Regions from separate parts of the Homo sapiens genome. Here all the other regions are linked to region 2. The links come from fine-mapping of genetic effects on gene expression. A gene starts in region 2. Each other region holds a variant in brackets. All regions are shown on one strand. Distances are from middle to middle.

What was found. PIP is the estimated chance that this variant, and not a neighbour inherited with it, causes the effect.
Region 1: its variant is fine-mapped to the expression of COTL1 in whole blood (TOPMed, PIP above 0.99). The same link has a PIP of 0.9 or more in blood mononuclear cells.
Region 3: its variant is fine-mapped to the expression of COTL1 in whole blood (TOPMed, PIP above 0.99).

The regions. Positions count from the first base shown.
Region 1 is chr16:84,562,268-84,570,484 of GRCh38, forward strand. COTL1 (coactosin like F-actin binding protein 1) reads right to left here. Exons shown (of 4, transcript NM_021149.5): 4 at 3,329-4,688. The coding sequence ends at 4,578. Among named protein-coding and RNA genes, the nearest start is that of COTL1, 52 kb to the right of the region's middle. RefSeq lists an enhancer at 1-489. The variant A/G (reference allele first, on the strand shown) is at 4,398.
Region 2 is chr16:84,614,299-84,622,298 of GRCh38, forward strand. It overlaps COTL1 (coactosin like F-actin binding protein 1), which reads right to left and starts at 3,780. Exons shown (of 4, transcript NM_021149.5): 1 at 3,540-3,780; 2 at 3,203-3,285. The coding sequence starts at 3,616. RefSeq lists an enhancer at 1-388 and silencers at 3,609-3,658, 3,679-4,038.
Region 3 is chr16:84,590,109-84,598,374 of GRCh38, forward strand. COTL1 (coactosin like F-actin binding protein 1) reads right to left here. Exons shown (of 4, transcript NM_021149.5): 3 at 1-154. Among named protein-coding and RNA genes, the nearest start is that of COTL1, 24 kb to the right of the region's middle. RefSeq lists enhancers at 219-718, 3,784-4,083, 7,427-7,928, 7,929-8,266. The variant C/T (reference allele first, on the strand shown) is at 4,484.

The sequences.
Region 1 (8,217 bases), 52 kb before region 2:
GACTGTGCAGAGTCCCCATCGGAATCTAACAGATCACATCACGCTAAGCACCTGGCAAGGCTCAGCTCACTTAGTCCTTGTAATAAATGCATGAGGGAAGTGCTGTGATCTTTAGAGGGGGAAACTGAGGCTCAGAGAGGTGACACTACTGGCCAAGGTCATCTGGCGGGTGAACCACGGACCTCGGACTCAAACCTGAGCCCAAGGCTGAGCTCTGAGCCACGGCTGTGCTGCCTACTGTCTCTTACTGAGTCATCTGGTGGCCGCGGCCGTTTCTGGTTCTTTCAAAAAATTCTTTCTACATCACTTGGACTATGCACATTTTCTGCTTCTTGTTTCTCTCTTTTATGGTTCACTAAGAAATGGGGAACAGAAAGATTTCAACGAGGGCAGCCCATCCTCAGGGCAGGAGCTGCACGGGAACTTTCCCCCAGCCAGGGCCGCACCCTGGGCCTGGACTCCCTCACCAGCCCCAGATAACCTCTGGGGTATAAACACCTGGCACAGCTGAGAAATAGGGCTGAGTGTGGTGGTTCACGCCTGTAATCCCAGCACTTTGGGAGGCCGAGGTGGGTGGATCACAAGGTCAGGAGTTAGACACCAGCCTGGCCAACATGGTGAAACCCTGTCTCTACTAAAAACACAAAAATTCGCTGGGCATGGTGGCGGGCACCTGTAACCCCAGCTACTGGGGAGGCTGAGGCAGGAGAATCGCTGCAACCCAGGAGGCGGAGGTTGCAGTGGGCCGACATAGCGCCATTGCACTCCAGCCTGGGTGACCGAGCAAGACTCTGTCTCAGAAAAAAAAAAAAAAGGCAAGGTTTCTCTGCCTTCAGTGGTCTCATGATCCCTTGGGATCCCCAGCAAAGGCCCAAGCTGCAGTTTTCAAGTTAAAGCCAAGCTCCTTGACACACGAACAAGCTGCTTCAGACCCTGGCTCACCCGTGGGCAAACATTCCATGGAGCTTATGTCCACGCTTTCCTGTTCCTCCCCTCCTTTCCCCGCGTTCTCAGCTCAGGTACCACCTCCTTAGGGAAGCCCTCCCCCATACCCTAGCCAGATCCAGGGCCCTTGTGAGCTCTCATGGAACCTGGGCTTTTTTCTCTGAAGGAGACTTATCCTCATCTGGAAACACACACCCTCTGGTGGGACAAGCTGATTAATATCCATCATCCCTGCTAGACTCAGCCTCCTTGAGGGTGGGGGCTGTCTGAGTTTGTTCATCATCAAATCCCCATACCTAGGCCAGTGCCTGGCACATAGTAGGTGCTCAATAAACCTGTCTGCACTTGCCCTTCAAGATTCCAGTCATGGCTGGGTGCAGTGGCTCACGCCTGTAAGCCCTACACTCTGAGAGGTTGAGGTGGGAGGATCGCTCAAGTCCAGGAGTTTGAGACCAGCCTGGGCAGCATAGGGAGACCTCCTATCTAAAAAAATACAAAACTTAGCTGGGCATGGTGGTGCACACCTGTAGTCCCAGCTACTCAGGAGGCTGAGGCAGAAGGATCGATTGAGCCCAGGAGATGGAGACTGCAGTGAGCTGTGATTGTGCCGCTGCACTCCAGCCTGGGTGGCAGAGTGAGACCCTGTCTCAAAACTAACAAAATGAAAACAAACAAGATTCCACTCACGAGAGGAACCCACAGAGGGAGAGGCAGGCCTCCCTTCCAGCCCCTCCTGCCCGGGATCAGGGCCACTTCTGCAGCTGTCTGGAAAGGAAAAGCTGGCGTTCGTTGAGTCTGGCACTCCAATTTCACTCACTAGTCTGGGATAGAGGCCTCATCTGTATTTTCAAAGCTCCCAGTGATCCTAATTCACAGCCAGGGATGAGACCACAGGCCTAGGGGCAGATTTGAGAGCTGCTCATTCTTTCTAGTCTGCTTTGGGGCAGGGAGTGGGGTGGGCAGTGGGCCTGGAGGAGGGCTTGGCCGACCAGGAGATTCCAGGAGAGGATGGAAGGCTTGCGGGACGCAGTGCATGAGTGACATGAAGTCATGCACCTACTGAGCCCATGTTCTGAACGGAGCTAAAACCCGTGCACTGGGAACGGACCTAGTTTAGCTCCCTCAGCTCTGGGTATAGGAAAAGACGGAAGCCCACAGAGCTAACAAGACCAGTGGCAGGCGTGAGATAAGAACACTGCACCCTGACAGGCGCCCTTTGCCTGCACAATCCTCGCTGCTCCTTAAGCCTTTCTACACGTAGGCAATGTTGTCTATTTTGCAGATGAGGAAACCGAGGCTGAGAGGTTAACTAAATTGCCTAAATCCACACAGCTGTGAACAGATGAGCAGAAATTAGAACCCAGACGTGGCTGGGGCGGGCTGGGGCTGGGGAGGGTGGTGACCTATGGCCCCCTGCCACCCTGGGCAGCATGATCAGGGCCTTGCCCATACCTTGTAGGATTCCTTCCTGCCCTGATTTCGGCTTCTGCCCTCTCTCCGCACTCTCCCTGCCCCACACTCAGCTCCTCCAAGCCCCGCTGTCTGTGTCTGAAACTCCTCTGCCCTGATTCTGGGCTCCCACAGGGTCTGGTGTGCTGGAAGTCCAGTTTCTCAGCTGTAGGATAACCTCAGAAAGGATGTCATGGCCAACGAGGAAGATGCTTTCTCTTGGCTTTTCCTAAACAGGCAGACAGGGGAGTTCTGGCCACTCAAAAAGAATCACTACCTGTGGTCCCATCGCTATCCCAAATGTGTGGCCTCCCCGCTCCCCTCACAAGCCACAGCACCAGGGACTTTGAGAGATCTCAGTTCAAATCCCAGCTCTGGCCGGGTGTGGTGGCTCACGCCTGTAATCCCAGCACTTTGGGAGGCCAAGACGGGCAGATCACCTGAGGTCAGGAGCTCGAGACCAGCCTGGCCAACATGGCGAAACTCCATCTCTACTAAAAATACAATAATTAGCCAGGCATGGTGACGGGTACCTGTAATCCCAGCTACTATGGAGGCTGAAGCAGGAGAATCTCTTGAATCTGGGAGATGGAGGTTGCAGTGAGCTGAGATCTCCCCACTGCACTCCAGCCTGGGCCACAGAGTGAGACTCTGTCACCAAAAAAAAAAAAAAAAAAAATCCCAGCTCTGCCACTTTCTATCTGGGTGACCTCGGGTGAATGAATCCCTCTGAGCCTCAGATTTCAGGAAATGGGGACAAAAGCAGCACCTGTTTCTTATGGTTGCTAAGAATTAAATAAGCAATTGAATGTGAATGTGCCCCGCCTCAGCAGCTCCGCAAACACCTATTAAATCTGAAGGCGATGATGACTGCCTCTGTTATTACAGCAAAAAAAAAAAAAGAACTTTGTAGGACAAATCAGAAACCAAACTGTTTTCTGAAAAACAAAAAAAACATTTATTTCTGTAAACTGTCTGAGTGCAGAGATGTTCTTTACAATCCCAATACAGTACAGATTTCTTCCCCAAAACGAAATGAGCAAGGAAAAACAGAAAAAGAGCTATATCAAATGTGCTCATGAAGAACCAAGCCAATCTCACCTTTCTTTAAAAACAAAACAAAACGATCCTTTTGAATGTGTGGTGCAGACGCAGGACTGAAGCCACAGGCTTTTGGGGTGCTGTGAGCCCAGGGCTTTGCTCAGCTCACAGCTAGCGCGGCGGGCAGAGCAACCCTTCGGCCCAAGCCATCCTCGCAGCTTACACAGAAGCTTCCTGAACCTAAGGGATCCGTTCCCAGCTCTCCTTAAATTCCCAGTCCCCACCCTGGGCCTCTCTCCCTAACGATCTTGTCGCTTTGGGAGCCCCTGAAGTGAACCCTGAAATACTCCCTCCGTCAACTCTGGGCTCAGACCTTTGCCCTTCTCTGTGTCACAAGGAAATTTCGGTCAAGAGGGTGGGAACAGGTGGTTTCAGACCGTGCAGCAAAGCCACTGCCAGGTAAGTTTTAAGGCAAATTTTATCTCTTCTTATTCAGTCTGAGCCGGACCTAACCTTCTCACCACCGAGCAATCCTGCCTATGCTGGACATGCATCTTAGGCAACTCCGGATGGAGGTGGGATGAGGGAGCCCGGGGCAGATACCAGGAGGTCTGGGCCTTAGTAGGGAATGGACGTGTGTGCTTATGAAGGCTGCAGGCACCGGGCACAGCTCCTGGCCCAGCTGCCCCTCAGTGGTACACAGGAAGCAGGGTCCAGGAAAACTGAGATGGCAAAATAGGCCCGGGCTCTGGAAAGCAACGTGAGGTCATGCAGATCTCACTAGGCAGACCTCGTCGCGTGGAAGAGAAATGCCAGGAAAAGGGGTCACTGCAGGAGGCACCTCGGATCTGATGGCAGGCAGGACCTTGCATCAAAATGACTTTTCTTTAGAACAAAAAAGAGGGGGAGAAAAGAAAAAGAAGATCAAAGAAAGAGGTTCCATGAGCGTCATGAGATAGGAC[A/G]CGGCAGGGTTCTAAGGGAAGCGGGAAGGTGGGGGCTGTGGACACAGGGTGGCGGGCGCTGCCTCTCATGGCTTCTTTTCTCCCTGGTGGGCTGGTGGGCTAGTAGCTGAGGCCGGCGGTCCTCTCCCCCGGGGAGCAGGCAGATGACTTTGGCAAGGGGTGGTGTGGCGGGGGCTGGGGTTACTCCGTCTGGGCGTCGTAATTGGCTCCCCCCGCCTTCTTCAGCTCGCTCTTGATGAAATCTTCCTCCAGCTCCTTCCGATCACTGATCACAAACTCCTTAGCGAAATTCTGCAAGAACAAAGGAAAACACAGCGTTCCTATTAAGAAGGAAGGCACAGGATGTGAGGGTGGCTCAGGCAACACACTGGGAAGCAAAGCACTGAAAACCCTGATGAGAGATGGAAATGGAAATTCAGCAGCAGAGTCAGTCAATGGAAATTCAGCAGCAGAGTCAATGGAAATTGAACAGCAGAGTCATCTGGCAGAAAAAACCTGACTGGGAGGAGGGAGTGGGGCAGATCTGATGCTGCGTCTTCCCATGTCCGTGGGGATGGCCCGAGGAAGCTGGGGCTTGAATTTGGGCTGTTACCTTGGCCAAGTCCCTTCAATTCTCTGTGCCTCAACTTTCTCATCTGTAAAAAACTATCTCGTCAGGAAAATAATAGGTTACGAGGTTGGAAAGGCTCACGGGTGTGCAGGCACTCCAAAAAAAAGAAAAGGACAAAAGCTCAGATTGGTGTCTTTTGCCCATATCCATGATGTAAATAGTCCCCCAGTGGCTGACGTCAAGCTATCAAAGTGATGTCACCATACGTGGAGGTGGAAGGAGACAGGCGTAATTGGCTCTCGCCAGCTGGGACAAGCAAGCTTCAGCCACCAATGTTCCTAATGACGCAGGAGCCTCCAGTCCTGGGTCTGCCATGGGCTCTCCACCCGCACTGAGTTACACGAGGGTAGAGGCTCTGCCTTCTTTCAACAAATACCACGCCAGGCTGTGGGGCTACAGGGCTCAGCAAAATGGATGCAGTCAGTCTTTCCTCTTGCAGTACACAGGTTTCACCCATAGAACCCGCAGGCACCCATGATGCACTCAGTAAACGCTTGTGGCATGAATGAGGGAACCAGGTGACCTGGCTTATCAGACACCCTTAAGCCATGATGATACACAGTTACTGCCATATGTGGATCATAAGACTTTAACAAACAAAATTTCAGAACGATGACGGACAGCTTGACAAAAAAAAGCTATCAAAACCACAAATAACACGTCTAAAGGTAAGAAAATCATCCACATTAAAAAAAAAAGCCCATAAGGAAATAACATAAACAATGACCACCATTTTTCTTTTTCTTGAGAGAAAAGCCTGTTGCCCAGGCTGGAGTGCAGTGGCGCAATCTTGGCTCACAGCAACCTCTGCCCCCAGGGTTCAAGCCATTCTCATGTCTCAGCCTCCCAAGTAGCTCGAACTACAGGCGTCTGCCACCACACCCAGCTATTTTTTGTATTTTTAGTAGAAGCAGGGTTTCGCCACATTGGCCAGGCTGGTCTCAAACTCCTGGCCTTAAGTGATCCGCCCAGCTTGGCCTCCCAAGGTGTTGGCACTACAGGCGTGAGCCACCACGCCCGGCTAACCACAATTATTAAGCACTTATGTGTACCAGCACAGTGCCACAGTACTGAGAATGACACACAGTAGTAAATATGAATCATGGAAGGTGGAAGCAACCCCTATGTCCATCAACAGAGGAGTGGATTATCAAAACACGGTCCGTCCACACAATGGAATATTCCTCAGCCACAGAGAGGAATGAAGCGCTGCCACACGCAACTACATGGATGAACCTCGGAAACAGGATGCTGAGTGAAAGAAGCCAGGCATGAAGACCATGTACTGTCAGCTGCCATTGGTATAAATGTCTAAAAAAGGCAAACCCATACAGACAGAAAGCAGACTCGTGGTTACACAGAGCTGGAGATGGGAACAGGAAATGATAGAGACGTTCTAAAATTGGGATTGTGGTAATGGGTGCACAACTCCACAAATTCACGAAAAAGTACTGAAAAAGTACACTTAGGATGACTTGATTTTGAGGTACATACATCATACCTCAATCAAGTTCTTTTTAAAAAGGCCCGTAAGGTGATCAACATTATTTCCATTTTAAAGGTGAGGAAACAAAGGCTGGAAATTACAATGCTTGTCCGAAGTCAGACAACCAGAAGGTCCAGTTGATGCCAAAGCTGGCGTCTTGAAAGAGCCACCATCTCCTTTTGGGGTGATGAAAAAGTTTTGGAACCAGACAGAGGTAGGGCTTGCACAACACTGTGAATGTTCTGAAAGCCACTGAATTGTACACTTTAAAATGGTTCAGGCCAGGTGCGGTGGCTCACGCCCGTCATCCCAGCACTTTGGAGGCCGAGGCAGGCAGATCACCTGAGGTCAGGAGTTCGAGACCAGCCTGGCCAACATGGCGGAACCCCATCTCTACTAAAACTACAAAAATCAGCCGGGCGTGGTGGCGGGCGCCTGCAATCCCAGCTACTGGGGAGGCTGAGGCAGGAGAATCGCTTGAACCCGGGAGGCGGACGTTGCAGTGAGCCAAGATCGCGCCACTGCACTCCAGCCTGGGCGACAGGGTGAGATCTGTCTCAAAATAAATAAATAAACATAAAAAGGTTCATTTTATGTTAAATGAATTCCACCACAATTAAAAAATAAAAAACAAAAAAGTCGCCATATTGCCAAGAATGATGAGCCCAGGAGCATCCCGAAGTCAAGCTTTACAATAAAAAGACAATGCATTTGGCGCGCAAAGCCACTGAGAACACTAACAAAGTGGAGAACGGGAGGTTAATTTTTATCAAGCAGCTGATGTGTGCCAGGAACAGCCTCACTCATGTTCTCGTTCAGCCCTCAGTATATTAACTTTATTTTATTTTACTTTTTGAAGATAAGACTCATGGGCTGGGCTTGGAGAGATTTGCCCAGAATGACAGAACACCCTTGAGATCCTTTCTGTTCCCACCCCACTACAGTGTGTTACTAAGTGTATGTGATCCGTGCAATGAAAGAACACAAGTTGGATGTAAGAGCCAGAAAGGAGAATTGAGAATTAATGTATTTCTCAACCCTGAGCCCCACGGCATGAGGGAGGGGCAGAGAGCTTTCAGAAGGAGGAAGCCAACAGCTTAAGATGCTTATAGAAGAAAAGTCCAAAGTTCCTCTGCTTTGTGATAGCTATATATGGCAATCTACAGAAATAAGAACACTTGAAGTTCCAGTCGGTTAGCTATTAGAAGATTTAGATTAAGAAAAATAAGTTTGAGAGCCATGGATGGTGGCTCATGCCTGTAATCCCAGCACTTTGGGAGGCTGAGGAGAGCAGATCATGAGGTCAGGAGATCGAGACCAGCCTGGCCAACACGGTGAAAACCCTAATCTACTAAAAATATAAAAATCAGCTGGGTGTAGTGGCGCGAGCCTGTAATCCCAGCTACTCAGGAGGCTAAGGCAGGAGAATGGCTTGAACCTGGGAGGCAGAAATGGCAGTGAGCCAAGATGGCGCCACTGCACTCCAGCCTGGCAACAGAGCGAGATTCCATCTCAAAAAAAGAAAAATAAGTTTGATAAGGTCTAAGAAATCTCAAATGAAAGATACATGGAGCTAGGCACAGGTCAACCTAAAACCACAAGTACTTAGGAAATCAAATTATAATGAAACAAAAACAAGCAAAACAGACAGCAGATCTAGTAAAACATAACAATAAATGTAAATGAACAAAATTATCTTTAAAAATGCTATGTTTCAAACTACA
Region 2 (8,000 bases):
AGAAGCAGCGCAGACCCAGAGCAGGCAGAAAGATTGGGAGGATGAGTGCGGGGGTGGGAGGGAACTGGCCTGGCAGCACAGACACCCCGTGGCCCTCTGGAAAACAGCTCTGAGGGAGGAAAGGCCAGGCCAGGAGGCTGGGAAGAAATGAGGAGGGGAGGCTGGGTGGAGAGATCCCATTCTGGAAAGCCGTGGGGGAGGAAGGGGAGAAGGGACAGTAGCCTGAGGTGGGAGGGCCAGGGAAGGGGGTGTTTCAGAGAGAATGCCTGAGTGCCAGAGTGGGGAGGGTTGGGAGAAGAGCAGGACCCCAGGAAGGCCCACACCCTGAGGTTATAAGGAAGAAACTGGGTGCTGTTTCTGGCCTTCCAAGTCTGCTGGCCACCTTGTGAGATGTTTGGAAGCAGGAAGCCCGAACCAGAGTGGAACCTTTCTTCTCAGGCCTGTCAGGATACCTGGCAGGGAACTGGGGCCACAAAAGAGCCCTCTCTGAGTCACAAGTGGGCAACCATGTCATTTGCAACCTGCAAGCAATCCCACGAGAGGTGAGAATCTAAACAACCTCCTCAGAAGCCAAGAGCACCTGCCCCGAGCCAGCCTGCCTGGGTTCAAGTCCCAACTCTGCCACTTTCTAGCTGGGTGAATGCAGGAAGCCTATTAACCTCTCTGGGCCTCCGTTTCCTCATCTGTAGAATAGGAGTAACCTTAGTACCTGCCACACCAGGCTGTTCTGAGGTATGACCAAGATAAGGCACGTCGAGCGTGGTGACTGCTATCCAGCCAGTGCCAGTGTTGAGTCCATTGTCCCTGGGTTATGAGGACACGACGACAGGAAGGAACAAGCGTTTCCGAGAGGAACAAGAGCAGACACGGCAACCATAATTCTCCTATGCATTTGTCCAACAGATGGCTGGGGAAAGAAAGCACTGCAGCTGAAGCTCCCATGGCCCATTCATGAGGATCCACACACAGCAGGGAAGCATTTTTAGCTTCCTCGCCAGACACGCGCCACTCCCCACTCCCATCCCTGGGGGGCAGGAGGTGGGTCTGAGCAGAAAACCACAAGCCTGTGGGAGGAGGGAAGTGTTCTCCCACTACACCAGAGTGGGCTGAGGCCTGGGAGCACCTGCCAGGAGCCTCCTGATGGGATGGATGCTCTTTTCCTCATCCCCTTCTACTTGCTGGAGAGAACAGTAGCTTCAGAGGCAGAACATGGTTTGATGGGGGAAGGGAGGGATGGGTGACCAGCGGGAGGAAAGAAGCTGAATTTAGGGAGGGAAGCTGGTCTGTAAAGCATAGCCTCAGAGCCGGCAAAGCAGAAATACTGCTGACTCTCCTGGCTGTTCACGGACCGGAGGGGAGAAAGTTAAGAGTTTGCACTTACTCCACTTGCAAAAGCATTCAACTACAGAGGCGGAGGGACGGAGGCCTGGGTTCAAATCCTGCCCTGCCAACTCTCCACATCGTTGCAGTGCTTTATGCTGCGATTTTAGGCCAACTGTTTACAAAAGCAATGAATGAATGTCTACAGGCAGCGCTCAAGGAGTAATTTTAGTTTTGTGTGTGTGTGTGTGTGTGTGTGCGCGCACGCGGGTTCTCAGTATCACCCATCCTCTAGTAGTCACACCACAAATACCCTTTGAATTGAACTAAATGCAAAATATAATTTGATTATGGAAGCAGTTAAGGAAAGAAACACCCACATGATCCCTGGCACAATTTTGTACTTTTTATTTATTTCGCAAACAATCATGTAGCTTGTACAGGCACTGTTCTGAGCATTTTATACATACTGACTCACTTATCCTCGCAACAGCACTGTGAGAGTGCAGGTGAGGAAACCAAGACCCCCAGAGATTAAGGAACTCGTTCCAAACCACACAGCCAGGAAGCAGCCGTTCAGGGATTCGAACCCACACCGTCGGCCGGGCGCAGTGGCTCACGCCTGTAATCCCAGCACTTTGAGAGGCCAAGGTGGGCAGATCACCTAAGGTCAGAAGTTAGAGACCAGCCTGGCCAAAATGGTGAAAACCCCATCTCTACTAAAATTACAAAAAATTAGCCAGGCGTGGTCGTGGGCGCCTGTAATCCCAGCTACTCAGGAGGCTGAGGCAGGAGAATCTCTTGAACCCGGGAGACGGAGGTTGCAGTTAGCTGAGATTGTACCACTGCACTCCAGCCTGGGCAAAAGAGGAAGATTCTGTCTCAAAAATAAATAAATAAATAAATAAATAAATAAGTAACCCACACCGTCTGGCTCAGGGTCCACGCCGTAACCTCCGGGCTGTGCTGCCGTTGTCCGAAAGCTTGCTTCCAACTAAAGACCAGAGATGGGAGGGAGTCGCATTCTCCAATCTCTTTAAAAGGTCCCATTACCAACATCACAGAGCCTCTGCCACTACCGAAGGGTTTATGGCGATGCCTGCCACGTGGTCTTTCTTTTCATGGTTCACAAGCCACAGGGAAGTGCCTAAGGCACACAAATCTTAAGTATACAGTCTGATGATTTTTCACGCGGGTACACACCTGCATAACCCCCTCCCAGATCAACAAATGTCTACAGAGACATTTTCAGCTCCCAGCAGTCCGGGTGGTGTGCCCCTCCCCATCAGTGGCTATCTAGCCCCAAAAGCTAATCTCGATTCTGACATTCACACCATAGATTAGTTTCGCCTTGTCTAGGATTTCTAAATGGAATCATATGGTGTGTACTCTTTTGCATCTGATTCTACTCGTCAAATTAAAAATCACATAAAATCAGCACACGGGCAGACAATGATAGCGGGAGAAAGGAGGGCGCGGCTGAGTTTCTTTCCCTTCCAAGCAGCCCCCTAGCCTGTTCGTATTTGGGCTCAGTGACTGATCAAAGGGGACAGTGGGAAGAGCTGGATGGACACTGGAGTTTGGAAACACAGGAGTTGACCTTAGAAAACCAGTGGACCGCAGGGGGCAAAAGAGCTGCCCCGCCTGGAGAAGGCATTGTAGGATGGCGGAGGCAGGTGGGTCACTTCTGTTGCTTCGGATGTCCAGAGGGGAGAAGGTTTTATGAGGCCTTAAAACGCTCACACCGGGTTCCTCCCACGCCATGCGCCAGGGGCACCCCATGTGGCCACCGGTTCCTCCCGGGTTCGCTCTGGCCGGGGCTCCCCGGGTGCAGACAACCTCCCAACGACCGCGCATCCGCCCGGCAGGCGCGCCTCCCTACCTGTGCACTGCTGGATGAAGTGCTGGTACTCCGCTCCCTGCTCGCCGGGGACGATGGTGGAGCCGTCATATTTAAAAGTCACCCTTTGGGTTGGGAGAAGAAAAAAACACACACACACATCAGCGCTGGTGGCCGCGCGACGCGGCGCTTGCAGAGGACAATCTAACAGACGCGCTGGCCACGGAGAAGCCCGCGGGGGCCTGGCACGCCGTCCCGGAATAAGGCGAGGAAGACAGCGCGGGAGGCCCGAATCCGTCCCGCCTGGAGGCCGGCTCGGTGCACGAGGCCCCGCGCGAGCCCGGGGAGCGGGGCGTGGAGACGAATGAAAAGTTCCTACCAGATGACGGCCGAGCCGTCGTCGCGCACCAGGTTGTACGCCGCCCGGCAAGCCTCTTTGTCGATCTTGGTGGCCATCGCCGCGGAGCCGCAGCGGGACACTGTCCGGGGCGGCCGAGCGCGCCCCTGGCCGGCGGCGGGGATGGGAGCGCGGCGGGTACGCGCCGAGGGCGCACGGGCTGGCGGCGGTGGCGACGGCTACGCGGCGCCTGCAAGCTGCGAGCGCGGCGGCGGCTTCCACTGCGGACGGAGAGCGCGCGGGGACCCCAGGCCGTGGCCCGCCCCGCCCCCCCGCGCCCATTGGCCGCCCAGGCGGCGGCCCGCCTCTTCATTGGCCGTCGGGCTGCGGGGGCGGAGCGTCTTGATTCTCTGGCGGCCAATCCCAGACCGGAAGGCTTGCGCAACTCCGCGGTGGGGGCTGGAGTAGGGGCTTTGCCTCCTCCCTCTCACTCTCCCTCCTCCCTCCCGCTCTCTTCTCCCCCAACATCCCTCTTCTCTCTCCTTCTCCTTCTCACTTCCCCTCCTCCCCTCCCGACCCCTCCCTGGAAACTCCCACTACCCCAACCCCCTTTCCCACCCCGCCTTCCTCCTCTCCCTCCTCCTTCCTCTTCTTCCCCCACTGCTTGCTTCCCCCACTTCCCTGACCTCTTCCCCCTCCCTTCCCTCCCCCTCTTTCTCCCTTCCCCCTTTATTCTTCTTCCTCTCTCCTCCTCCCTCTTCTTGCCTATCCCAGCCCAAAACTTCTCCATCCTCCCTATTTCCTTCTCCCCAAGCTCTCCTCTTTCCTCCTCCTTGACCCCCTCCCCTGCTGCCCCCGGCTTCGCCTCCCTCTTCTCCACTTACCCTCCTGGCATCTCCTCCCTCCCTGTCCCCTACTCCCTCCTCCTATTCCCCCTCTCCCCCTTCCTCATTCTCCCCACCCCCCTGCCCCTGAGGCTGCAGGGCTGCAGAGCTCCACAGGGGACCTCCACGTGGATGATGTAATGCGTCAAACCCAAGGAGACAGGCTGGCCACTGTCCCTACCCCAGCGTTTGGTTCCATGGATTCTAGGTGGGGAGGAACTGGAAAGAATGAAGCATTTTAAATAGGAGGGGGTAGAAAGTGGACTGCTTCCAAAACGCTGGTGGGCTCGCGTTTACTCTGGATTCTGGTCATTTGCATTCCTATCTTAACCTCTCCCTTTGGGCTCCTCTGAAAGCACGAGCTGACTCATTCTGTCTTCCTCATTCCTTCACTGACTCATTCATTCATTCCCTCATCCAGCCATTCCACAGAGACCAGTTACAGCGTCCAGGTAGGTAAAAAGGCAGGATCCTGAAGACTGGGCTCTTGAATTGCATCCAGTACTGCCACTTTCCAACTGGGGGCCATTGGAAAGCCTCAAAACCTCTTTTAAATGACTCCTCAAATGGGAAAAATAGTATAACTGACATCACTGCTTTGTTTTAAGTGTAATTGAAATGATACTTGGAACAAATATACTAGACATTCGATAAAATGTCATCATTGTTGGTTATTAAGTGATAAAAACAAATCCTAAATAGAAACCCAAAAGGTCAGGGACAATGTCCAATTAATGTTAGAATTCTCAACAAGCAAAAAAACAAAAACGAGAAATTGAATGAATCAATCAATCAGTCAATCAATGGGTAGTTGAATGGGTGGGTGGACAGGAACACAGTTTCAGAAGAGTAGAGGCAGATGCTGTTATAAATAAGACAAAAAGAAATTCACATTTCATACCCCACAAAGCCATTCCTACCTTACTCCTTGACAAGGGTAATGGGACAATTGGCCATTAGAAAGAAGAACAAAGGTGGATCCTTTGATCAGGGAAAATTCCAAAAGGATCAAAAATTTAAACACAAATAAAGGAAATCAGACCAGTCGCAGTGGATCACTCCTGTAATCCCAGCATTTTGGGAGGCTGAAGTGGGAGGATCTCATAAGCTCAGGAGTTCGAGACCAGCCTGGATAACAGGGGGAAAGCCCATCTCTACTAAAAATACAAAAATTAGCCAGGCGTGGTGGCAGACGACTGTAATCCCAGCTACTTGGGAGGCTGAGGCAGGAGAATCGCTTGAACCCGGGGCGGGGGGCAGAGGTTGCAGTGAGCTGAGATCGCACCATTGCACTCGAGCTTGAGCGATAAAGCGAGACTCTGTCTCAAAAAAAGGAAATCACAAAAGTGCCAGAAGAAAATATGGGGAGCTTCCTTCTAACCATAAACCATGTTACCCAAATCCAAATCCAAAAGCCATTGAAAAGATGAATACATTCAAACACATAAAAAGTGATCCAGGAAAAAAAAAAAAAAACATACCATACCACCTCATGCAAAGTGTAAACATAAAAAGACAAAGCAGTAAAAAGTGTTTGCAACTCAAGTAAAGAATTAGTCTTGCTAAAATATAGAGAAGTCAAACTTAAAAAAAAGAAAATGAAAAGAACAATGGGCACAGAATATGACCAGACAGATTAAATGATCTTAAACATGCAAAAAGATGCTCAACCTCAACTCCTAGTAAGAGAAATGCAAATTAAAGCAAAATTGAGATACCTTTAAAAAATAAATAAATAAACTAGCAGTTTGGTAAAAATAAAAAACTTTGACAAGCCTACTTTGCTGGGGAGGCTGTGGAAGACCCAGGTCCTCTTGTACATTGCTGGTGGGAGTGTGAATTGACACAACCCCCATGGAGCCGCCGTAGAGGCCAGTTGGCAATGTCTAGCAAATTTACAAGTCTGTGTGCCCTTGATCAATCCATTTACCCTATAGGGTCAGTGGTGCCCAGCCATGGCTGGACATGGGAATCACCAGGGTCCCCTGATCCCACACCCAGACATTCTGATATAATTGGTCTGAGATATGCCCTGGGTATGGAGATTTTTTTTTTTTTTTTTGAGAAGGAATCTCACTCTGTTGCCCAGGCTGGAGTGCAATGGCGTGATCTCGGCTTACTGCAACCTCTGCATCCCGAGTAGCTGGGGTTACAGGTGCGTACCACCACGCCTGGCTAATGTTTGTATTTTTAGTAGAGATGGGGTTGGCAGGCTGGTCTTGAACTCCTGACCTCGTGATCTGCCCGCCTCGGCCTCCCAAAGTGCTGAGATTACAGGCATGAGACACCGCACTCGGCATTTTTTTTTTTTTTTTTAAAGGCAGGGTCTTGCCTGCCTCAAAAAACTCTGTCACCCAGGCTGGAGTACAGTGGTGCAATCTCAGCACACTGCAGCCTTGACCTCCCAGGCTCAAGCGATCCTCCCACCTCAGCCACTCAAGTAGCTGAGACTACAGGCACGTGCCACCACGCCTGGCTAATTTTTGTATTTTTTTGTAGAGACAGGTTTTTGCCATGTTGCCCAGGCTGGTCTGGAACTCCTGAGCTCAAGTGATCTGCCCGCCTTGGCCTTCCAAAGTGCTGGGATTAGAGTTGTGTGCCACCCGTATGGGGATTTTTGTAAAGCCCCCTGAGTGATGCTTACGTTCGACTGGGGCTGAAAGTCACTGCTATAGATAATAGATACACTTGTATGTGTGCAAAATATATCCAGGGTTATTCATTGAGCTTTACTTTTAAGGCAGAAGGTGAGGGCTAACCTGAGTCCCCATCAGTGAGGGGCTAGATGAATAGGTAATAACGCTGGTGAACCATGCACGACTATGAAGCTGTAAAAGAAAGAAAGGATGAGGACCCTCTCTAGATGCTGGTATGGAACATTCTACAAGATAGATCATGAATACGCAAAGCTAGCTACTGAATAGTGTGTTCAGAACAACACTACCTTTTGGGTAAAATGGGGTGGGTGTTAATATTGTATTTGTTTTGTTTTTTTCAGAGGGAGTCTCGCTCTGTCACTCAGGCTGGAGTGCAGTGGCGCGATCTCGGCTCACTGCAATCTCTGCCTCGCGGGTTCAAGTGATTCTCCTGCTTCAGCCTCCTGAGTAACTGGGACTACAGTGCACGTCACCACGCCCGGCTAATTTTTGTATTTTTAATAGAGACAGGGTTTCACCACGTTGGTCAGGCTGGTGTCGAACTCCTCATCTCAGGTGATCCGCCCGCCTTGGCCTCTCAAAGTGCTGGGATTACAGGCGTGAGCCACCACGCCCAGCCTGCATTTGTTTATATTGGCATTGGCATTGAAACTTCTGGTAGAGAACACAAGAGAAAACTAACAGTACCTGTGGTGGAGGTGAAGCAGAAAGTCAGGCAAAAAGGGTTAGGGATTGGGGTAGGAGGGTGGTGGGTGTTACTACATACCTTCTTGTTTTAGTTTAGTTCTCGACCACGTGAATGTATTATCTGTTCAGAATGCTAAACTACCACCCAGAAACGTGGCTGCCATACTGAATTCAATCCTCAGTCTCCATGGTTCAGCGTTCCTGGAGGAATCCTATGAATGTGTAGGGAACTGGGAAGCCCCACTTCAGTCCTCCTTTCATTGCTGTTCTCTTTC
Region 3 (8,266 bases), 24 kb before region 2:
ACGACCTCCTTCACCAGGGTCTTGTCCGTCCCGGTTTTGGCGCGCTGCAGCCCGCTGACGTTCTCACCGATCCACGTGATGAGGGCAAACTTGGACCTCTTGCTCATGGCATCCCCGGTGGTGAAGCGCACGAAGGCAAACAACCGGACGTCATCTGTGGCCAAAAGCGAAAAGAGAACATGGTGCTGCGTTAAAACACCCCCATGTCATGTCCCTGGGGAGAGGCTGTGAGCCACGAGTGCGCCTGGAGCAGCACAGCAGGAGACCGGTGCAGTTCCCTGGGAGCACCATGTGCAGAGGACAGGAGGGAAGCACTCATCCGCTGCCCTTGTCACACTCCCCTGAATCCTGGCAACAGTGCTGCAGGCTTCATGCCCATTTCACAGATGGGAAATGGAGATTCAGAGAAGTCACATGGCACTTTCAAGGTTGTGAGGGAATTCAAGGTCATGCTGGGATTTAAACCCAGGCCTTTCTGGCTGCAACGCCTACAGCCTTCCTACAATCAAGGCTCAAAGTCTGGGTGGGCCCATTGCACAGATGTGGGTGCCGCCAGCAGTGCCAGGGCCCAGCCAAAAAAAATTTAAAAATAAAAATTTAAAAAGGCTCAAATTATGGATCTTATTTAGGGACCAGAAATTCATCCTCTTTGTAGACCAGAAATTCATCAACTCTTTTTGCCTCAATCTTTGCAGTTTGGAATGAGACTCTACACTGTAGAGAGACAGGAGGGGCAAGGGGGGTGCTGGGTATGAAGAGGAAACAAAGAAAATGGCTCTTAATTTGGCCCGGGATATGGCTCCGAGGATATTTCACTTATGACTAGGGCAATTAGGTCAACAATGAATTCTGAACACATTTCCATTGGCTGTGTTATGCTTGTTCTATCTTATATAGTCATTTTTATTAAAATGGCTTTGAGGGCTATTTTGTTCCATTGATCCACATTAAGTTTTATTTCAATGCCACACTGTTTTTATTATCATGACTTTAAAATTTGTTTCACAATCCACTATGCTAAGTTCCCCCACCCTCCACTGCTCTGTATTATCAAAATATCATTTGATATTCTGGAATTTTTTTTTTTTTTTTTGAGACAGAGTCTCGCTCTGTCGCCCAGGCTGAAGTGCAGTGGCGCGATCTCGACTCACTGCAAGCTTGGCCTCTAGGGTTCACACCATTCTCCTGCCTCAGCCTCCCGAGTAGCTGGGACTACAGGCGCCCACCACCACACCTGGCTAATTTTTTGTATTTTTAGTAGAGATGGGGTTTCACTGTGTTAGCCAGGATGAATCTTGATCTCCTGACCTTGTATTCCACCCGCCTCAGCCTCCCAAAGTGCTGGGATTACAGGCGTGAGCCACCGCGCCCAGCCTGATTTTTTGAATTTTTAAAGTGATGTGTGTATTGGCCAGGTATGGTGGCTCACCCCTGTAATCCCAGCACTTTGGGAGGCAAAGGTGGGAGGATCACTTCAGCCCAAGAGCTTGAGACCAACCTGGGCAACATGGAGAAATCACCTCTCTAAAAAAAAAAAAAAAAAAAAAAAAAAAAAAACCAAAAAATTAGCTGGGCACGGTGGCAGGCACCTGTAGTCCCAGCTACCAGGGAGGCTAAGGTGGGAGGATCACTTGAGCCCAGGAGGTTGAGACTGCAGTTGAGTAGAGATTACGCCACTGTACTCCAGCCTGGGTGGCCAACTGAGACCCTGTCTCAAATAAAATAAAATAAAATAAAATAAAATAAAATAAAATAAAATAAAATAAAATAAAAATATGTGCGTGCATGTGTATGTGTGCATTGCATGTGTGTGCGTGTGCATGCGGGTGCATGTGTACCCCACTAGGATAAACCAAAATTGTTCAACATCAGCTCAACTGGCATCTGGGGCCAGATCATTCTCTCTGGTAGGAACCATCCCGTAAATTGCAGGGTGCTGAGCAGCACCCCTCACCTGGCCCCACCAGTTATGACAAACAAAAATGCCTCCATACATTGCAGATGTCCTCCAAAGGGGGCAGAACACCCCCAGTTGAGAACCTCTGCTGTAAACCGTTGGTGTCCCCATTTAATTGGGACCCCTTTTGTGTTTTCCAACAAAGTTCTGTGCCTCTTGAGGGGATCACATATCCTTATTCAGCTTACTTCACAAACAGTTCATATTTTAACTGCCATTATCACCAAGATCTCATTACAATTCCTAAGTGGTGGTTGCTGGCACATAGGGATGCCACTGGTTTGGAGTCATTCACCTTGTATTAGCCACTTGCATAAACTGATGCTCTCTCAGGGCGTTTAGTTGCTGGTGTGAGGGTTTCTCAGGCACCTAATGATATCGTAGAGCGATATGTTTGCTTCTCAAACATTGTGTGGATTTGAATCACTGGGGAAATCTTAAACGCAGCTTCTGATTAAACAGCTCTGGGGTCTACGCTTCTAAGAAGCTTCCCAGTGATGCTGATGCTACTGGTCAAAGGATCACACTGAGTTAAAAAAAAAAAAAAAAATCAATCTGCGTTTCTTCCTAGAATCTAAGTACGTCCCTGCAGAGTCCCGCACGAAGCATGTAGGTTAGCACCAAGACCCAAGGACACAAACCACCTGTCTACAGGAGATACTGGCCTGCAGCTGACAAGCTCACTTCCTGGTGATTATCTCAAAACCGGAGGGGGTAACCAGCACGTTCGCCTTCAACAAGAAGCCGGGTGGTCTAACGGGTCATCCATTTGTCCCCGGGAGCTAAGGAACACGCAGCTCTCAGCAGACCATGAATGCGTGATCCTAGCTGCAGTCCAGGGTCAGGGACTCCACAACACTTACTTCTTAAAGGAAACTGATCGTCATCACCACTCACATTGGCACACCACTTTTCAGTTTACAAAACATGCTTCTATTTCATCTCATTTGGTCTTTGTAACAACGCTGGGAGGCAGATGAGGTAGAGACGTCATGGCCACTTTCATCATCAACATCCAAATCACCTTCATTGATAAGGGCTGGAGGCTCAGAGGCCACGTGATGTGGCCAGACTCTCAACACGAGGCCAGAGCCAAGGGCCTGGACACCTTGGGTGTGTGTGCTCAGCCCCCTTTCTCCAGGGAAATGCCCCACCAGGCCATGGCTATCTGGGGGTCAGTAGGTAACAACGCAGCAGGGATAGAAGGAAGGATGGTCTCAGGGACACTGCGCAGGTGAATCCACAGGGCCTGGTGACCAACTGGATGTGAGAAGGTGAGGACAGAGGAGTCCAGGGCACAGGAGACCCCGAGGGGTGAGGGCCCCACCTCCCATGCCCCGGGGACTGTGCCTGAATTCCCAAACATCAGCCTGGGCTGCCTCACCTGTAAAACACGTTCTTTTCTTTATTGAGATAAAAGTCACATAACAAAATTCACCATTTTAACCACTTTTTTTTTTTTTGAGAAGGGAGTCTCGCTCCGTCGCCCAGGCTGGAGTGCAGTGGCGCGATCTCGGCTCACTGCAAGCTCCGCCTCCCGGGTTCACACCATTCTCCTGCCTCAGCCCCCCGAGTAGCTGGGACTACAGGCGCCCGCCACCACGCCCGGCTAATTTTTTGTATTTTTAGTAGAGACGGGGTTTCACCGTGGTCTTGATCTCCTGACCTCGTGATCCGCCCACCTCGGCCTCCCAAAGTGCTGGGATTACAAGCGTGAGCCACCGCGCCCGGCCATTTTAACCACTTTAAAGCATCCAATTCAGTGGCTTTAAGGACACTCACAATGTTGTGCCATCATCGCTACTATCTAATTTCACCACTCCAACGAGAACTCCCGTCCTCAAGAACAGTCACTCCCCATTCTCCACCCCATTCCCCCAGGCCCTGGCAGCCACTCTTCCACTTTCTGTCTCTATGGATTGGCCTGTGCTGGACATTTCATTGAAATGGACTCATATGCTATGTGGCCTCTGCGGTCTGGCTTTCACTCAGCGTCACATCTCCAAGGATCATCCCTGCTGCCGCATGTGCGGGTCACCACTTCATTCCTTTTATGGCTGAACAGCACTCCATTGCATGGAGAGAGCACATTTTGCTTATCAGTGCATCAGTTGATAGACATTTGGGATCCTTCCAAAATGGGGTGATTTCACGCCTCCCTTATCAGTTGACCATGATGACTGAAAGTGAAAGCTACAAAACCCACCTAGCCCATCAGGGTGGAACCTCCAACCTAAAGCTCCTGACACAGGGCGGGGCTGCCAGGTGGCCACAGCGCACAGGAAACGAGACTGGTGCAAGAGATGGCAGTTCCTCACTTGTAAGGTGCAAAGTGCGCAGCCACAGGCGGCTGGTGCAGACTTGGAGTGTGGGGGAGCAGCGCTTTAGCTCGAGAGCATTTCTCAGCAGTCCCCGTGGTGTCTGGGAAGCCAGGGCTCTGTTTTGAGGAGTGTCGTCAGAGCATCAACACCAAAGTGCTTAATTAAATGGCAGCCTTGACCTGAGGGGGAGGAGGGGCTGAACATC[C/T]GCCTCCGACTGCATTTCACAAGCAAAAGAACACGGTGAGTGTGTTTCCATGGTAACCGCTCTCGGGTTCCCATTTCCACATTGGTCAGCCCGGACTTGGATCCAAACTACCCATCCCTGGCCCAAGCCTCCATGGAGGTAAGTTACCAGCCCTGCTTTGGGCCAACGCAGTTTTTGGGGACCTCAACCATGTGTTCAGCCCATGGCCAAGGCTTCGGGCTGAGCCAGCTCTCCCAGCCTCTCTCTCTTCTCAGTGTCGCCCCCTCCCACGGCTCTGGCTGGCTCCTCTGCGGAGCTCCATGGCTTTTCCAGCGTCTGCCCTCTCTGCTGGCTGCCAAGTGCCTCCACATGCCGGCCATGCTCTGCGCACCTCCAACCCTCCACATCCACCCTTCCCCTCTTTCAGACCTCCCCAGGTCTACCTTGGGCAACACCCTTTGCCCCCGGAGGGTCACAGATTCTTGTTGAAGAACCACAGGCATTGTCCCTGTGTCCCAAGTACCAGCCCAGGGCCTGGCACAAGATAGATGTACAATAAGTAAGTTACACCCACAACCCCAAGGACACTGGGAACCTTCCAGAACCACAGCCTGATGTCATTTAAATGATCGTGGGGGAGCGGGGTAAAGAGGGACGTGGTTTGCTAGGTGACTGCTGCGTGCTTATCCGACAATGGTTTGGTCAACAAGATTGCTGACAGGCCTGTTTTTGAAAATCCGAGTCACGTTATGCTTACAAATGTTTGCTGCTAGAGATCTGGCACGACAGTGACGGGTCAGCTGAGTCGGAGACGGAAAACCTGTTGGTCTGCGCACCGTTTTTGCAGCTGCCCGGCAGACTGGAGGCCTCTCCCCAACCCTGCTCACCCTGAAGGAGGTTCTCGGTCCCTTTTGACCTCACACTGGGCAGTGGAAGGGGAATCGCTAGTTCTTCATCCCTGGTTTAGTTACTTTCCCTCTTCTGAACAAATTGGGTCCACAAACCCCAGTGGCAGTCACAGCCCCACATCAGCAGTGGGGAGCCCTAGGCTCCCTCGTCTATGTCGGGCTATTGTCACTCCTGTACGCGGGAACACTGGCATATCTACTAAAGGGCACAGAGAAACGCTGTCCTGTATATATTAGTGTGATATGTGTGTGCGTATATATTTGTGTATGTGTATATATACATATATTTGTGTGTATAATATGTGTCTATATGTGTACAGGTGTGTTTGTATATGTGTGTATATACATACATTTGTGAGTACAGGTGTATATATGTGTGTATATATATTCATGTATTTGTGTATGTGTGTTATATATACATGTATGTGTATGTGTGTGTTATATATATACATGTATGTGTATGTGTATGTGTGTTATATATACATGTATGTGTATATGTGTGTGTGTATGCACTAAGACGGCAAAACTGCCCAGAAGAAGGTTGGTACCTGGGCTTTCCATCACCCTCACTGTGCCACTTGGTCCCCAACAGGGCCAATGGTCCATCTCTTCAAACTGAAGCTGAGAGTCCAGGTCTACGCAGAGGAGACAGGGAGACTGGGCAACCCCAGTGGGGGACGGGGGACCCAGGACTTCACCCAAACACAGGTACCAGAGACAGATGCCATGAGCTCCTTCTGCTGGAGCCCTCAGCACAGGGGAGTGGTCTATACCCTTAACCTTCTCTGCAATGTCCAGGGTGCAAGTTCAAATTCCAGAATCCTTTAGAAACTTACCCCCACATGTACTAGCCTTGTGACCCAGCCCAGAGTCCTGAATGTCTCTAAGCCTCAGTTTCCTCATCCACAAAATGGGTCAAATACTTACCTCATAAAGTGGTTGGGAGGATTACATGAAAAAGAAATGAGATCTGAAGGGTTGGCTGATGGGAATCATTGCTGATTTTTGACCCCCAACACCTCTCCAGTGAAACTGCCCTCAGGGGTCCACAGGGGCCTCCTAATTGCCAAAGCCAACAGCATCTTCTCCATGCCCACTGGTGGCGTTTCACGCCATTATCAATTCTGCCCTCCTTGAACCTCTCCCTTCCCACGGCACCCAGGGCATGGTGCCATCTTGGTTCTCAGAGCACTGATCCCGCCTTCTACTTTCTCCCCGGCTCTTCCACCCCCTCTGTCTCCACACACACACTCCCCAGGGTTCCACCTCATCCTCTCCTTTCCCCTGACACTCTCTCCCTGGGAGATCTCAGCTACCACCACAGAACACTGACGCACCAGCCCCTGCCCTCACAACTCTCCACTGCTCTGTCCTTAACAAGGTGGACAGAGTCTGCCCTCTGTTTCTCGCCATTTCCTGGCACCTCGCACCCCTTACACACAACTGTTCGCTAAGGCAATCTGGAGCACTTAGAAGAGCACAAACTCCAGAGATCAGCCAGCCAGGGCCGCATCCCAGCCAGGGCCGCATCCTAGCAGGGGCCGCATCCCAGCCGGCTTCCTTCTAGCTATGGAACATCAGATGAGGGTGCTTCATGCTCTGAGCCTCAGCTGTTCCAGCTGTAGAATGGGGACCACTTTCTGCATCCAGCTCTGGGTTTCAGAGTGAGGCACTCCGAGGCACACAGTCACGGAGTCACTCCTTCTGTGAGTCTTTCTTGAGGAGAGATGGAAGACAGTGAAGGTCTGAGAGGTAACTGAGCCCCAAGTCTACTAAGCACTTATGAGGGGCCAGTCCCCACTCTAAGAATCTGCACACTGCAGATTCTTCTCCTCTGTGAGGGCAGCACAGATCGCAGTCCCATTTCACAGATGAAGAAACTGAGGCTTGGAGAGGTGAAGTGAGAATGAGCCACACAATTCTCCCTGCCCGCTGCAGAGCTGCTGAAGTCCACAGCAGCAGTTCTCAAAGTGTGGTCCTCGGACCAGCAGCACCACAGCACCCGGGAACTTATTAGAAATGTGGGTACTCAGGCTCCACTCAGCCCTACTGATCCAGACGCTGGGAGTGGAGCTCTGAAACTGTGCTCGAATGAGCCCCAGGGTGATTCTGAGGCTGCCAAACCTTGAGACCCACTGACTTAGAGGAAGAGGTGGAGAAGAGGAAATGGTGAGAACTCACTGTTGGGAGAGGGGACGAGACAAAGGTCTCAAGGACAGAAAAGCTGAAGTGCTCAGAGTTCAGCCCCCACGCCCTCCTTGCTGCCTGTCTGCCTTTTATTTTAAGCAAATGACTGCATGAAGCAGCTTCCTGCAGAGTCCGTGGTTCCTGAGCACGCCCATCAAAGACCACCAGGACAGTCCCTCCAGTGCTCCCTCCCCAAAATCCCACACCCCAAGAGAGGGAACAGCCATCATTAGCAAGAGAGCTACTGACTATCAGCCCTGGGTACCAGGAGGCCTTTCTGCCTGTGCTGCCTCTAGCTCCTCTGCTTGCCCATAAGCCACGAGGATTCAGATGCATATCATAGCATCACACTGAGCCCCATCTCAGGGCTGCCGTCACTGAGGATACAGCAAGGTCAGGAGCCCCATCCTGAGGACGGTGGTTTCCTTCTGGTCGGTGTCATGCACTCAGAGCCCAGGCCAATTGCACGCTGGATGTCCCTGATTTGAAGACTATGGATGCCCTCCCCTTCCCACCCAGAGAGAGTCTTGTTCATGAAAAGACACAGCTGTTATGTTTAACGTTAATAAAACTTCACTCTCAAAAGAGCCGGACCCTTCCTTCCACTGGTCTATGAAGCCTCATCAGAAGCCAATGATGGAGCTTTGGCTCCTGCAAAGGACCCGTGGGGACCTAGAAGCCCCAGGCAGGGCCCTGAAGGTAGGTAAAG